Homo sapiens: one gene and its partner. The protein of the gene in region 2 purifies or fractionates together with the protein of the main gene of each other region. This does not show direct contact. Each region holds a gene or a part of one and is shown on either strand. Other genes may lie near its edges.

The links. The genes of interacting proteins can lie anywhere in the genome.
Region 1: the proteins of SGO2 (region 2) and ARL8B purify together in Homo sapiens (affinity purification with mass spectrometry; 3 studies listed by BioGRID and IntAct, with this or other methods). This does not show direct contact.

The regions. Positions count from the first base shown.
Region 1 is NC_000003.12:5,125,152-5,132,699, forward strand, and holds part of ARL8B (ADP-ribosylation factor-like protein 8B), read left to right. Parts: intron 1-3,308; exon of another isoform or gene 3,309-3,664; intron 3,665-7,548. UniProt on the Homo sapiens protein: Small GTPase which cycles between active GTP-bound and inactive GDP-bound states.
Region 2 is NC_000002.12:200,578,100-200,585,037, forward strand, and holds the end of SGO2 (shugoshin 2), read left to right. Parts: intron 1-2,435; coding exon of another isoform or gene 2,436-2,439; exon of another isoform or gene 2,440-2,569; intron 2,570-5,349; coding exon 5,350-5,365; 3' UTR 5,366-5,997; downstream 5,998-6,938. UniProt on the Homo sapiens protein: Cooperates with PPP2CA to protect centromeric cohesin from separase-mediated cleavage in oocytes specifically during meiosis I. Has a crucial role in protecting REC8 at centromeres from cleavage by separase.

The DNA.
Region 1 (7,548 bases), on a different chromosome or scaffold from region 2:
AAATGGAGGTAATGATATGTTTCTTACAGAGTTGCTCTAGGGATTAAATGACATGAAAGATGTTAAGTGGCTAGCACTCATACTGGCCCACAGAAGGGGATAGGTAGATGGTAACTGTTGTTATTTGTAATTGGGCGTACCTGTTTAATGCAGGAACGATGGCTTGAAAAATACTGAGAAGGGACTCAACTGGTATCATTTTCTACTTTGAATCACTGTATCTATCCAGATGTGGGCTGCAGTAGTGGATTTATGGATTGGGGAAAGTAATCGCATCATGTGTTCCCCCCTGCCCCGCCCCCACCATTAGATTATTATATTTAACAACAACAAAACTTCTGCAAAGCTGTTGAAGTCAAAGTGAACCAGTGGCTCCACCATTATCTTTTTTTTTTTTTTGAGACGGAGTCCCGCTGTGTTGCCCAGGCTGGAGTGCAGTGGCATGATCTTGGCTCACTGCAACCTCTGCCTCCTGGGTTCAAGCTATTCTCGTGCCTCAGCCTCCCGAGTAGCTGGGACTACAGGCGACTGCCACCATGCCCAGCTAATTTTTGTATTTTTAGTAGAGACGGGGTTTCACCATGTTGGGCAGGCTGTTCTCGAACTCCTGGTCTCAAGTAATATGCCTGCCTTGGTCTCCCAAAATGCTGGGATTACAGGCGTGAGCCACTGTGCCCAGCCCACTGTTATCATTAGACTATTCTTTTTAAAATTGTAATGGTGTGGGTAGCTTCAGTTAAGAAAAAAAAAGTCACAAAGATAAGGTGATGGATGTGTAATTGGCTTGAATTAGTCATTCCACACTGTAAACATGTATCAGAACATCTCATTGTACTCCATAAATGTATACAATTATGATTTGTCAATTAAAAGTAATATTAATTTAAAAAAGAAAAAAGACATCTGGGCTGTAATTGGCTGTGGCTTTTAAGATGCTGAAAGGGACCCCCTCAGTGAATTTCATACTTTTTTTTTTTTTTAACCTCAAGGCTCTAACCTAACCCCTGATTCTTATAGAATATGTTGAGGATGTAGTGATTAAAATCCAAGTTAGTGATTAAAGATGATTTTAGAGATTTTTAGGTAGAAACAATGTGTCCAAAATAGTAAGTTTAGCCTTTTAAAAAATCAGCTGCACTTTTTGTATTGTATATAAAATAGTTGCTTTATAGAATCAGAAATACAGATGTATTGAGTACTATGTGTCACTCTAGAAAGGTGACCATTTACTTATTCACATTTAAGAAGCGACTTCTCAGGTATGAAAAGCTTCAGCTGAAGCCAATTTTCTTTTTGTAAAAATCAACATTTTGTAAACATTAAAATGTCACTACATGTGCCTTAAACATTAAGGAAGATTTAATAGATGTCATTTAACTTACTCAAAAGGTTCATGAGACTGAATTACTATTATATGTAGGGTTTGGTTTGAGTCTAAAAGATAATGCAGCTTAGTTACAGAATGCTCAGACTTAGAATGCCTTTCCTTAGGATTTTAAAACTGAAATGATACCTAATTTAATCCAGTTTTATGTAGAGACACTTGATATATGTAGTGTTCTCTTTTGTTTTGAACATTATAAAAAAGAAACACCCTAGTCTTGTCTTTTCTGATTAGTGTCAAGGAATGAAGTATTTTTTCCATTGCTAACTGTTCTGGCAGTTATTGCACAATAAGTCATGTGCCTATATGTGTAATGTATATTGAGTAATCTTTATTTTTAACTGGGGCTTTTAGATATGTTATAGTTATTAAAAAATATCTAATAGGATTTGCCAAAATAATATAGGATAAATCTTATGGACATTATGTATTTTTTAAATGGAAGTATAAAAATTTGTCTACACTTTTGCACATTGTTGATACCTGAAAGGTTAATCCAAGGGAAAGTTTATTACTGCTGAGAATTAGGAAAAGAAGATATTTGGGAAGACTGTAGAAATATGAACCTAGAATCATTTTTTAAAGAGTTTGTAGAAACCTTGATTAAGTAGTCTAATTTTCCCCTCATTTTTTAGATGTGGCTAGCAGATCCAGTGAGGTTAAGTGGAATTCCAAGGCAACAAAGCTAATTCGTAGCAGAGATAGAATTAGAATCTGGGGCCAGTGTACTTTCTACTTTTCCCACCTCTTTAGATCCAGCTGAGGTTAGAACCATAGAACTGTGGATTGGGAGATCTTAATCCATTAAACATCTTTTTTGTATTTAATTTAATTTAAAAAATCAGCTGCAGTTTTTGTATCGTATATGAAATGTTTGCTTTATAGAATAAGAAATACAGACGTAATGAGTACTGTGTGTCTCTCTAGAGAGAGCATTTTAAATCCAGGCATCTTAAGCATACTGACTAACATTTGAGGACTATATATTTATCTATGAACATGAATTAGGAGAAGGAATGATAATCTGTGGAAAGTAAGAGTGGAATATTATGTTTGGATATTTAAATAACTGGCTAACAGGCATTACTGAGTTGTTGAACTACTTTTAGTATCTTTAAAAAGCAGAGGGAGATCAAGACCATCCTGGCTAATGCGGTGAAACCCCGTCTCTACTAAAAATACAAATAATTAGCTGGGTGTGGTGGTGGGCACCTGTAGTCCCAGCTACTCGGGAGGCTGAGGTAGGAGAATGGCGTGAACCTTGGAGGCAGAGCTTGCAGTGAGCCAAGATTGCGCCACTGCACTCCAGCCTGGGCAACAGAGCGAGACTCCGTCTCAAAAAAAAAAAAAAAAAAAAAAAAAAAAAGCGGAGGGCCAGGCGCAATGGCTTACGCCTGTAATCCCAGCACTTTGGGAGGCCAAGGCGGCCGGATCATGAGGTCAGGAGTTTGAGACCAGCCTGACCAACATGATGAAACCCCATCTGTACTAAAAATACAAAAATTAGCCTGGCGTTACTCAGGAGGCTGAGGCAGGAGAATTGCTTGAACCTGGGAGGCGGAGGTTGCGTTGAGCCGAAATTGAGCGACTGCACTCCAGCCTGGGCAACAGAGTGAAAATCCGTCTCAAAAAAAAAAAAAAAAAAAAAGCAGAAATAATTTTGTATTTGATTGTATTGCTTATTATTTAATTTCTTTGGAGGTAAGAATGGCAAAAACCATTTTTAAAGAAAATGGGCTGTGGTTCAAGTCTAGATGTTTTACACATCTGAAACTTGACTGGAGAAGCTAGTCTTCCAATAAGGTGGTCTTCAAGTATAGATTCTGAGTTGTGGAAAATGAGGCATCTTACAAAGGAACATCTCTACCTTCCATAAAGTTTTCTACCCTTCATCCCCGCTCCAATTATTTGTTTTTCCTTGCAGACCAAGAATCTTGAAAGCCAAATGTTCTCATTAAGAAGCTGTTAGAGTGCAATAATGCATTCTAAATGCCTGTCTTAGAAGATATTTCACAAGTTAATGGATTTTTTAAGTTTTTCAAAGATATAGTAAGTGGATGGTTACTGAACATGGATACAAAATACATTGAACCTATAAAAAAGTTACTCAAATATTATTAAAAAATTTTTTTTCTGAAATTTTTTTTGTGTTATCAAAACAATACAGGCTCATTAGCGGAGATGTGAAAAGAATAGTATAAGGTAGAAGAAGCCACTTATTTCTACCATCCAAGATTAACTACTGTCAACATTAAAAGCATTTCGTTTTTGTCTTCTTAATGTGTATATCCAGATGTCTTTTAAAAAGTTCTGAGATAATATTACTTATAATGCTTTATATTCTGGTTTAATTGTTACAGTGTATGCATTTTTCTATCTAAAACATTTTTCATGTCTTCATAGTTTATTCCATTGTGGTATGTCTTGTGGATATGCCATAACATATTTGGTAATTCCCTTATTGGACATTTGAGGGATTTTTCCTATGTTTTCCTATTGTACTCAATTTGATCTGCACTTCCTGAGGATGTGTTCCAGAGTTGGTATTTCTGGGTCAAAAACGCATTTTATGTCATATGGCCAAATTGCTTTCCAGAAAGTGTACACTCCCACTGAGAAGGTCTGAACAGTTTTTGTTTTTTGTTTTTTGTTTTTCCAGATAGAGTCTCGCTCTTGTTGCCCAGGCTGGAGTGCAGTGGTGTGATCTTGGCACACTGCAACCTCCACCTCTCGGGTTCAAGCAATTCTCCTGCCTCAGCTTCCCAAGTAGCTGGGATTACAGGTGTTTGCCACCTCGCCCAGCTAATACTGAGCAGATTTCATATATAAAGTTGGACTTTGGTTAAGCACTTTGTCCTCTGGTATTTTTTAGGACAAACATAGTTTTGTTGATGAAGTAGAACGGTATTTTAAAATTATCCTATTAGATACTGCTCTGTTTGTGTTTAATATATTTTAAGAAGTTCCTTTTTATATTTCAGCAACTGCCAAGACTGATAACTATAGAGAACATAATTCTTTCTGAGACAAGTTCTTGCTCTGTTGCCCATGCTGGAGTGTAGTGGCATGATCATGGCTTATTGCAGCCTCCACCTCCTGGGCCCTGGCTCAAGAGATCCCCCCACCATAGCCTCCCAAGTAGTAGGGACCACAGGCGTATGTCACTACGCCTGGCTAATTTTTTTAAACAAGATTTTTGCTGCTGGGTGTGGTGGCTCACGCTTGTAATCTCAGCATTTAGGGAGGCAGAGACAGGAGGATTACTTGAAGCCAGGAGTTGAAGACCAGCCTGGGCAACATAGTGAGGCCACATTCTCCACATTCTCTCTCTCTCTTTTTTGTTTTTCAGACAGAGTCTTGCTCTATCACCCAGGCTGTAGTATAGTGGCATGATCTTGGCTCACTGCAACCTCTGCCTCCTGGGTTCAAGTGATTCTCCTGCCTCAGCCTCCCAAGTAGGTGGGACTACAGGCACGTGCCACCACACACAGCTAGTTTTTGTATTTTTAGTAGAGACAGGGTTTCACCATGTTGGCAAGGCTGACCTCGAACTCCTGACCTCAGGTGATCTGCCTGCCTTGGCCTCCCAAAGTACTGGGATTACAGGCGTGAGCCACTGCACCTGACCAAGGTCATATTCTCTTAAAAAAAAATATATATTTTTTTTTTGTAGAGACTTCATCTCACTGTGTTGCTCAGCCTGGTCCCGGAACTCCTGGGCTCAAGAGATTCTCCTGCCTCAGCCTCCCAAAGTGCTGAGATTACAGGCAGGAGCCACCACGCCTGCCCCTGAGAACATAGTTCTTTTTTGTTGAGCTTCCCAGGCAAGCCATGTAAATATAAATACAGCTCATCCCCTTTACTTATCATGCTGCTATTTTGTTTTAGAAGTATTGGTAGATTGCATATTCCATAACCCTGATATATTTCAGTATAATCCTTACCTAATCTTGGACCTATTATAGTGGGATGCTGCTTGCTTGCTTGTGTGTGTGTGTGTTTTTTTTTTTGGCGGGGGGATGGAATCTTGCTTTGTTGTCCAGGCTGAAGGGCAGTGGCATGATCTCGGTTGACTGTAACCTCTGCCTCCTGGGTTCAGATGATTCTCCTGCCTCAGCCTCTCCCCAGTAGCTGGGATTACAGGCTTGCGCCACTACGCCTGGCTATTTTTTGTATTTTTAGTAGAGATGGGGTTTCGCTACGTTGGCCAGGCGAGTCTTGAACTTCTGACGTCAAGTGATCCGCCCGCCTCGGCCCAGGCATGAGCCACCACGCCCAGCCTATGAACCTATATTCTTACTTCAGTATGCAAAATGTAGCATAATGTTAAGAATGAGGTTGCTTAAAATCTAGGCTACACACATAGTTAGGCCTGCCTTTTCTTCGCTCTTTTCTTTTTTTTCTTTTTCTTTTTTTGTTTTTGAGATGGAGTCTCACTCTGTCATCCATGCTGGGAGTGCAGTGGCACGGGGATTCAAGTGATTCTCCTGCCTCAGCCTCCCGAATAGCTAGGACTACAGGCACCCGCCACCACGCCCAGCTAATTTTTGTATTTTTAGTAGAGACGAGGTTTCACCATGTGGGCCAGGCTGGTGTCAAACTCCTGTGATCTGTCCGCCTTAGCCTCCCAAAGTACTGGGATTACAGGTGTGAGCCACCGTGCCCGGCCACCATTTTCTTGAAAGCTCATTTTGTCCGGAGAATGTTTTAATGCCAATACATGGACTTCATCATTTGTAAATAGTTCTTATCAGAGGAAAATCTAGGAAAAGAAAGGAAACCTACATTTCTCTCCTTCATAATTTAGCTATTTCGTTTCTAGCTTTTGGCAATCTTATTTCAATAAAAAAATTAAAAAATTTTTTTTTTTTTTGAGACAGAGTCTCACTCTGTCACCCAGGCTGGAGTGCAGTGGCGCGATCTCGGCTCACTGCAACCTCCGCCTCCCGAGTTCAAGCGATTCTCCTGCCTCAGCCTCCTGAGTAGCTAGGGTTACAGGCGCACGCCACCATGGCCAGATAATTTTTGTATTTTTAGTAGAGACAGGGTTTCACGATGTTGGCCACACTGGTCTTGAACTCCTGACCTCAAGTGATCCACCCACCTCGGCCTCCCAAAGTGCTGGGATTACAGGTGTGAGCCACTGCACCCAGCCTACCCGTTTCTTAAAAATATTAAATTGACGTTACAGGTTTTCATTAACCCTTATATGAATATTTTGGTTACTGCCATTATTTTCTACTCTTAAGTGACTGAAATGTTTAACTTTGGTTTTTGTCTTTTTTTCAGAGTTCCGGTAATTTCAGAAATGAAATGATTTGACTAGTTTTATCCTTTGAATTTTTCTGTCATTCTTTCCTTTTTTTGAGACAGGGTCTCACCCTGTCACCCAAACTGGAGTAAAGTGGCATAATCATGGCTCACTGCTGCCTCAACCTCTTGGGTTCAAGCAGTCCTCTGCCTCAGCTTCCTGAGTAGCTGGGGCTACAGGCATGTGCCGTCATGCCCAGCTAATTAAAAAAATTTGTTTTTTTGTAGAGGTGGAATCTTGCTGTATTGCTCAGGCTGATCTTGAACTACTGGGCTCAAGCTGTCCTCCTTCCTTGGCCTCCCAGTGTTGGGAGTACAGGCATGAGCCTGTACTGTGCCTAAGTCCTCCCATCCTTTCTGTAGTAGGTATTGCCCTAAGTTAGGATTGATCATATTCCCTATGATCATCATTATTATTTTTTTTTTTGAGGCAGAGTCTCACTCTGTCTCCCAGGCTGGAGTGCAGTGGCGCGATCTCGGCTCACTACAACCTCCGCCTCCCTGGTTCAAGTGATTCTCCTGCCTCAGCCTCAGGCTCTCCCCACCATGCCCTGCTAATTTTTTTGTATTTTTAGTAGAGATAGGGTTTCACTATGTTGGCCAGGCTGGCCTTGAACTCCTCACCTTAGGTGATCCACCTGCTTCGGCCTCCCAAAGTGCTGGGATTACAGGCGTGAGCCACTGCGCCCGGCTCCTCTCATTATTTTTAACCATCAGAAATTATCTTGTTCTCTTGTTTCTAATAGTCTGTCCCTTTTCACAGAGCCAAGACTTTATCATATTTTACAATGCTGTACCCCATTGCTAAGAACAGTCCCTGCCACATGACAAGCTCTTTAAATACTGAATGAATG
Region 2 (6,938 bases):
CTTTCCTTCTACATTAATTGGAATTCATCTGTAAGGAAGAGTTGTCTTTTCTATAGATATAGATATAGATATAGATATAGATATATATCGTGGGTATCTCTTTTGTTCTATAGATGAAAGTCCAATGCCATCAATATTTATCTTGTTGCTCAAGTTATTCCAACTTTGACCACTAAGAGTTCCTTCAGGTTGGCTTCCGTGTCCTTTTGACATGACTTCATACTATTTGGAGCACTTTCTTACTTTCTGACACACAGGATGTTCCAGTATGTCATAGTGGCTTAATCCTAGTGGCTTAAGTAGCAATCTGGATGCAGCTTAATTAGGTGCTCTGCTTAGGGTCTGACAAAGCTGCACTAAAGGTGTCGTCCAGGCTGGTTCTCATCTGGAGGCTGTGCTGGGGAAGAATCTGCTTCCAAGTCACACAGGTTGTTGGCAGAATTCATTTCCTTGTGGTTCTGGACAGAGGGCTTCATCTTCTTCTTGTTGACTAGAGGCTGTCCTTAGCTTCTTGCCACACGGCCTCCTTTACAGCATGGCCACTTACTTCAAAGCCAGCTGTGGAGAATCTCTAGAGCAAGTCCTGTAGCAGGATAGAGTCTTATATAACAAAATGTCATCTCGGAAGTGAGACATCTCATCACCTTTGCCAGTGGTCTCCTTGTTTATTGTAGAGGATCTATAGTATGTTTTAATGTCTGGTAGGGCTAGTATCCTCTCATGGTTTTTCTTTTTCATTGTTTCCCTCACTGTTCTTGAATGTTTGTTGTTACAAATGAATCTTAGGATGGTATTGACTTGTCTGGCTCGGTTTCATAACCTTGGCACTGTTGACCTTTGGGGCTAGGTATTTCTCTTTTATGGGAGGCTGTCCTGTGTATTGTAGGATGTTTAGCTGTATCCCTGACCTCCATCCACTAGATGTCAGTAGCACCCTCACATTTATAACAACCAAAAATGTCTCCATATGTTGCAAAATTTCAACTGGGAGGCAAAAGCATCCTGAGTTGAAAACCACTGGTCTATAAGTATTTAGTTTTCTTTGTTGCTATTATATATGGACATGTAACTGATGCCCAATGTTGTTCGTATATATGAAAGCTGTTGAATTCTGTGTCAGTTTATATCTTGTTACTTTCTGAACTCTGTTATTCTCTTATCTCACTGATTGTCTTGAGTTCTCCAGGTATAGTATGATATCATCTGAAAATAGAGATAGTTTTACTTCATTACCCTGTTTGTATGCCTCTTACTGTTTTTATATTAGCATTGGCTAATAACTCAGGTACAATGTTAAAATAGTAGCAGGAATAGTAGGCATGCTTGCCTTGTTCCTGATTTTAGTAGAAATGCTTCTGTTGAAGTATTTTTGTCTCTCCATTAAACAAGATACTTGCTGTAGGATTAAGATATGTACATAATTTACTAAGAAAATGCCCCTTGATGCCTATTGAGTGTTTTTATCATGAATGATTGTTGAATTTTGTCAAAGGCTTGTTCAGCATTTATGAAGATAGTAATATACTTCATTTACTTACATGTATTAACATGGCATCTGTTGATGAGTTTTCCAGTACCGAACTAACCTTGCTTTCCTGGAATAAATCTCACTTGATCACGGAGTATGTTTTTCATAATGTGATGTTGAATTGAGTTTGCCAAAATATTTTGTTTAGAATTTTTATATCAACATTCATAACTGATGTGAGTCTATAGTTACCCACCTTTGAATTGTCTTTATCTGGCCTAGGTATCATATTAAGGGAATCAAGAAAGTCACCATCTTGGTTCCTTTAATGAAATAATTTATATTTCATTATAATTTATAGTGCATTATAATTTATGTTTATAATTATTTGTATGTTATATACTTATATAATTTTAGAACAGTGGGACTCTCTGGTTTTTGTAAGTTTGTTAGCATCCCCCTCTGAAACCATCTGGACCTAGTACTGTTTTGTGTGGGATAGTTCCTTAATAACGTTGACTGTTTTTTGTGTGTATGAAAATTAGTCTGTTTAAGCTTTTTTGCTGTAATGGGGTCAATTTTTGTTATTTGTATTTCCACAGGAAATTATCCATTTCATCTAAGATTTCAAATTTATTTGCATAAAAGTCTGCAAAGTATCTTTTATGAATTAGACATGTAAATTAATTTTAAATCTTTTTTCCCATAATTATTTTACCTATATCATTTATTATTTTTTGTGTTTGTTCTTTTTCTCTTTTTCTTGATCAAATTAGGTAGTAGTTTATTTATTAACTTTTCCAAAAAATCAGTACTTTGATTTACTAATTGGATCTATTTTTCTGTTCTCTACTTCACTGACTTCTGCTTCATATTTATTATTTCCTTCTTTGTGTTTTCTTTGATTTACTTTATTATTGTTGTTTTCCCATTAAAATTTATTGTTTTTATTCTTTCATTTATATAGATAACAGTGTTTTATGGACAGGCACAGTGGCTCACACCTGTAATCCCAATACTTTGGGTGGCTGAGGTGAGAGGATCACTTGAGCCCAAGAGTCGGAGACCAGCCTGGGCAACACAGGGAGACGCTCACTCTACAAAAAATTTAAAAATCAGCCAGGCACATTGGCATGTGCTTGTAGTCCCAGCTGCTACTAGAGAGGCTGAGGTGGGAGGATAGTTTGGGCCTGGTAGGTCAAGGCTGCAGTGAGCCATGATTGTGCCACTGCACAGAGAAAGATCCTGACTCAAAAAATTAAAAATAAAAATAAGTAAATAGAACACACACAAAAAAATTTTTTTTTAAAGTGTCTTTTGCAATCAATTTTTCTCTGATCAGTGCTTTCAATGTATCTTGATTCTGATACATAGTGTTTTCAATGTCGTTTTTAAGTTTCTCCTTTTCTTTAGGAGTTATTAGGAGGTTTTAAAAATTCCAGGTAGATGAACCTTTCTGGTTTTTTGTTTTTATTTGTAAATCTAGTTTTATTGCATTTTGGTCAGAAATTATTTATTGTAATATTTCTGCTTTATGGAAATTGCCAGTATTTTCTTTGTGACCTACTATAGGATCAGCATTTATAACTGTGCTGTGATTGCTTAGATGTATATTCTCCATAATCAAGGTCTAAAGTTTGATATATATCCATGAGATTTACTGTATTTATTATGTTGCTTAGATCTTCTGTTTCTTATTTTTTGTAAATAAGTGATCTGTTTTGTACTAAGGTTATACTAAGAGTTGTATATTAAAATCTACTGTGTCCTGTGTTTCCATGTATCTCCTGTAGTTTTTGCTTCAGAAGGGTGGTTGCTCTGCTTTTTGCTATGTAAATATCATGATTATTACTTATTCATTTTGGATTATGGCCTTTATTATATTAAAAATGTCCTCATTTGTCATGTTCAGTGCTCTGGACTAAAGACTTAAAGTCTTTAAGATATAAAGACTTTAAAAACATATTTATGAGACCTTCCTGATAACTCCTACCACTCCTATCTTCAATACCTATGATGATCATTCCATAATAGCAAGCAGCTTTAATTAGGATGTACTTTCATGGGAGCTACTAGAAGCTGTGATATACCTAGTGTATACCATTTCCAATCCAAAAAGAAGGAAGAAAAAAAAGTGGCAACTGGATGGTCATCACTCGGAATTTATACTGAATGTTGTGGCTTTTGCTTTTAAAAATTTTACCAACTAAGCTGTATAGCAAATCATCTGCATGCACTGTACATTTAAACTAAAATAGAACCTTATTTCCTTACAGCATTTTGCTGTGTTTTATTTAGAATAGGTACTTCTTTTGAAAGGATTAATTAAACTCTATCTAATTACCCAAGGCAGTGGTATCACACTGGCTCTGAAGAGGAGTACGAAGGAGTGAAAGAGACCTTTCCACCTAATCTTGTATACCTTTTTAAATTTGGGACCATGTCTATGTATTTCATCTAAAAACCACATTTACACACATGCATGTAAAATATAACTAAACTCCATAACTTGAAACATGATGTATTAGGTGCAGGAATCTACCCTCTTACTGAAAAAATAAAATTATTGGGTAAAATACTAAAAAACATACCTTGAATGCATTTCTTAACTAATGACTATTAGCCAACCAACATTTCTTTTAGTAGGAAAGTAAGAAAAGCTCAGATCAAAGATCAAATGATAGCAGGAACTCAGAGGGGAACTGACCTTATCCTGAAGATATTTGTCTAACTAGGTGAACCTAAACATTGCATTCACAACCCTATGGGGCTAGGGACAGAAGACAAATCCTAGGGTTTATCCAAAATAAATAGTCTAATAGATCTTCTTCCATAAAGTTGATCTACTTTCTCAGTAAAAGAGCAAACTAAAAATAACCTCCCCACTAGCTTGCTCAGCCCCAGGAAATAACTTGGGTGCTGAATTAAGGAGGAAAAAAATCTTTCCTTAGAATTCATAACCAAAATACAGCCTTTATTGCAGATTATAGCTGGAATTCACAATATTTCGAAGGCAAAAAAAAAGTTAAGCTGAGGATTTAGTATAATTAGTGCATGAACTATAGTGCTCTGTTGTCTATTAGAAGCAAATATTTTGTAGGGAGTTGTCCATCTCACACCTCAACATGTTTTGCACAGCCAAAGTTCCAAGGAAAATGAAGGGCTACCTCATAGTAAAGAAAAACATTACATACACAGGGGAACAAGGTATCAGCAGAAACAGCAATCAGACACAGAATATAAAATGTTTAATGTTTCAATAAAGGAGAGGCTTGAAAATGAATGAAGATGTTGAGTGGAAAAAGTCACAGAAAAACACCTACAGTACGATTCCATTTATATAAAGATATCTATCAAACAGATAAAACCAAACAATATACTTTGTGGGAGAGCAATACACAAACGCTTAAAACAAAACTGTAAAGAAAGGAGTGATAATAGAATTCAGGATAGTGGTCCCTTTTTGGGGGAGGAGAGGGTTGTGATCAGAAAGGGGCATATTGGAGGTGTGGTAATATTTTGTTTCTTAACCTGGGTGTAGGAACATGAGCATTTACTTTGTTTTTAAATGGTATATTTTCACATGTTCTTGAACATATGCTAAATTTCTAACAAAAAGGAACTATGTAATAAACATGTAATATATAAAATCTATGTTGATTAATTTTTCTTAAATATTTGAAATGAATTATTTGAAGTACTCTGATAGTGAGAACTATAAGATTTAAGAAAAATTAGAGTATTTCAAGTATTTAACAAAGCTTATGGTTTAAGGAAACTTCTTTTCTACTGATATGATGAAACAATTTTCTTCTCCATGCTTCACAGCAAAAGCATTAATTTTGGGTTGTTATTAATCTTCCTTTTTTTCTACTTTGCAGCAAGATGAGAAGATGAAGTGAATTTATGGATTCTGGTTTTTCTGAATTTTCAAAGCATAAGGAATCAAAACAGAAATATAGTATCAAGAAGATGAAATGCTTAATGAAAAGGTTTTTTTTTTGTTTCTTTGGCCTTTCATGGAGTGTTGATTTGTCCATTCTTAATGTTTATTAATAGGTATATGTGCATAAAATAGCTATTTTGTAACATTAAACTTTTTGAGTCATTTTGGTCATCATATAACTTACCTTCCTGTTTATTTAAGCTTCTTTTTACCTAGTAGCCTTTAACCAAACAATAACCTTTTAACCAAATAAAATGTGTTAATAAATACCTTTGCATTGGTTATCTTGTATACTAGGCTGTCTTGTTTTGCTGTCTGTTTTTAACCCATTCAATATATGTGGACATCCAAAAGGGTTTAAAAGCCACCTCCTGCCCTGGCCCGTTTTCTCTCCCTTCATTCTTCTGTTTTCAGAAATACATGTTGAATGTCAGCTTCTGTATTATTTCTATTATATGTAATCTGATGACTTAGAGGAGGAGATTAACCTTTCAGGCTCTTTTGAATTTGGTTTTTATAATTTGGTTTTAAAGATCACTTACTCTTCCAGTAATAAGTAGTAATAAATCCTGTTCATATCTGAGATCAATACACAGTTTATTGAATTCAAATGACTACTCAAACTCTATTCCACCTAGATGGAAAACTTTTTTAGACAATATCTGACCACTAACGCGGTGGGCCCAGAAATCTGCATCTTAATCAGATGCTTCAGGTGAGTCCGTCCGAGGATTGTCCTAGTACCACACTTTGAGAGACTGCAGTGGGGGTACAGAGTGCTGGAGGGGTTTAGTCAATAGCTCTAGTGAAGGATGGATAGTTTTATTCAAAGAATCCCAGTTGATGAATGAAGAAGAAATGCTAGAATTAGAAAAATTGCAAACCCCTATTAAAACTACCGCTCAGGCAATGCTCAACAATGGATGTAAAACAATTAGGTGAAATGTTGATGGAGAAATTCATTACAAAGGAATAGCCCTCTGAACCCACTGATCAATGTTAGCATCATTACGAATGAAACAACCAGACACCATATGCTTCCTGCTGTGCTGCAATATTAATTATATGGTACCACCTATGAAGTGTTCTTGCCCTCTCCCCCCCAAAAAATTGAACCTGAATTTAATCAAAGCTTTAGATCTAATATTTAGTGCATAGGAAATAAGTAGAGTAGAAAAACAATACCAGGGAGAAGCAATTAGCCACATTCAAAAAATGGTTCATTTCAATAGAACAACTGACCTGGTTTCTTTTTCAATGTGTTAATAGTGTTAAAAAGTCTGTTTTAGATCAAAAGAGACTGATGAGACCACATGCAAATACATTGCACAGCTCTTGTTTGATTCAAAGAAGTCAAGTGTAAAAGACATTTTTTAGACACGTGAAATGGTGTTGCGGCTGACTAAAAGGATGTGTATGTGTGTTTTTGAAGTATTTAGGGCTAAAATATGTCCAGGATTGGCTTTTAAATACTACAAAAAATGGAGTATGCCAAAACGTTGACCATTGTTAAAGCTCAGTGAA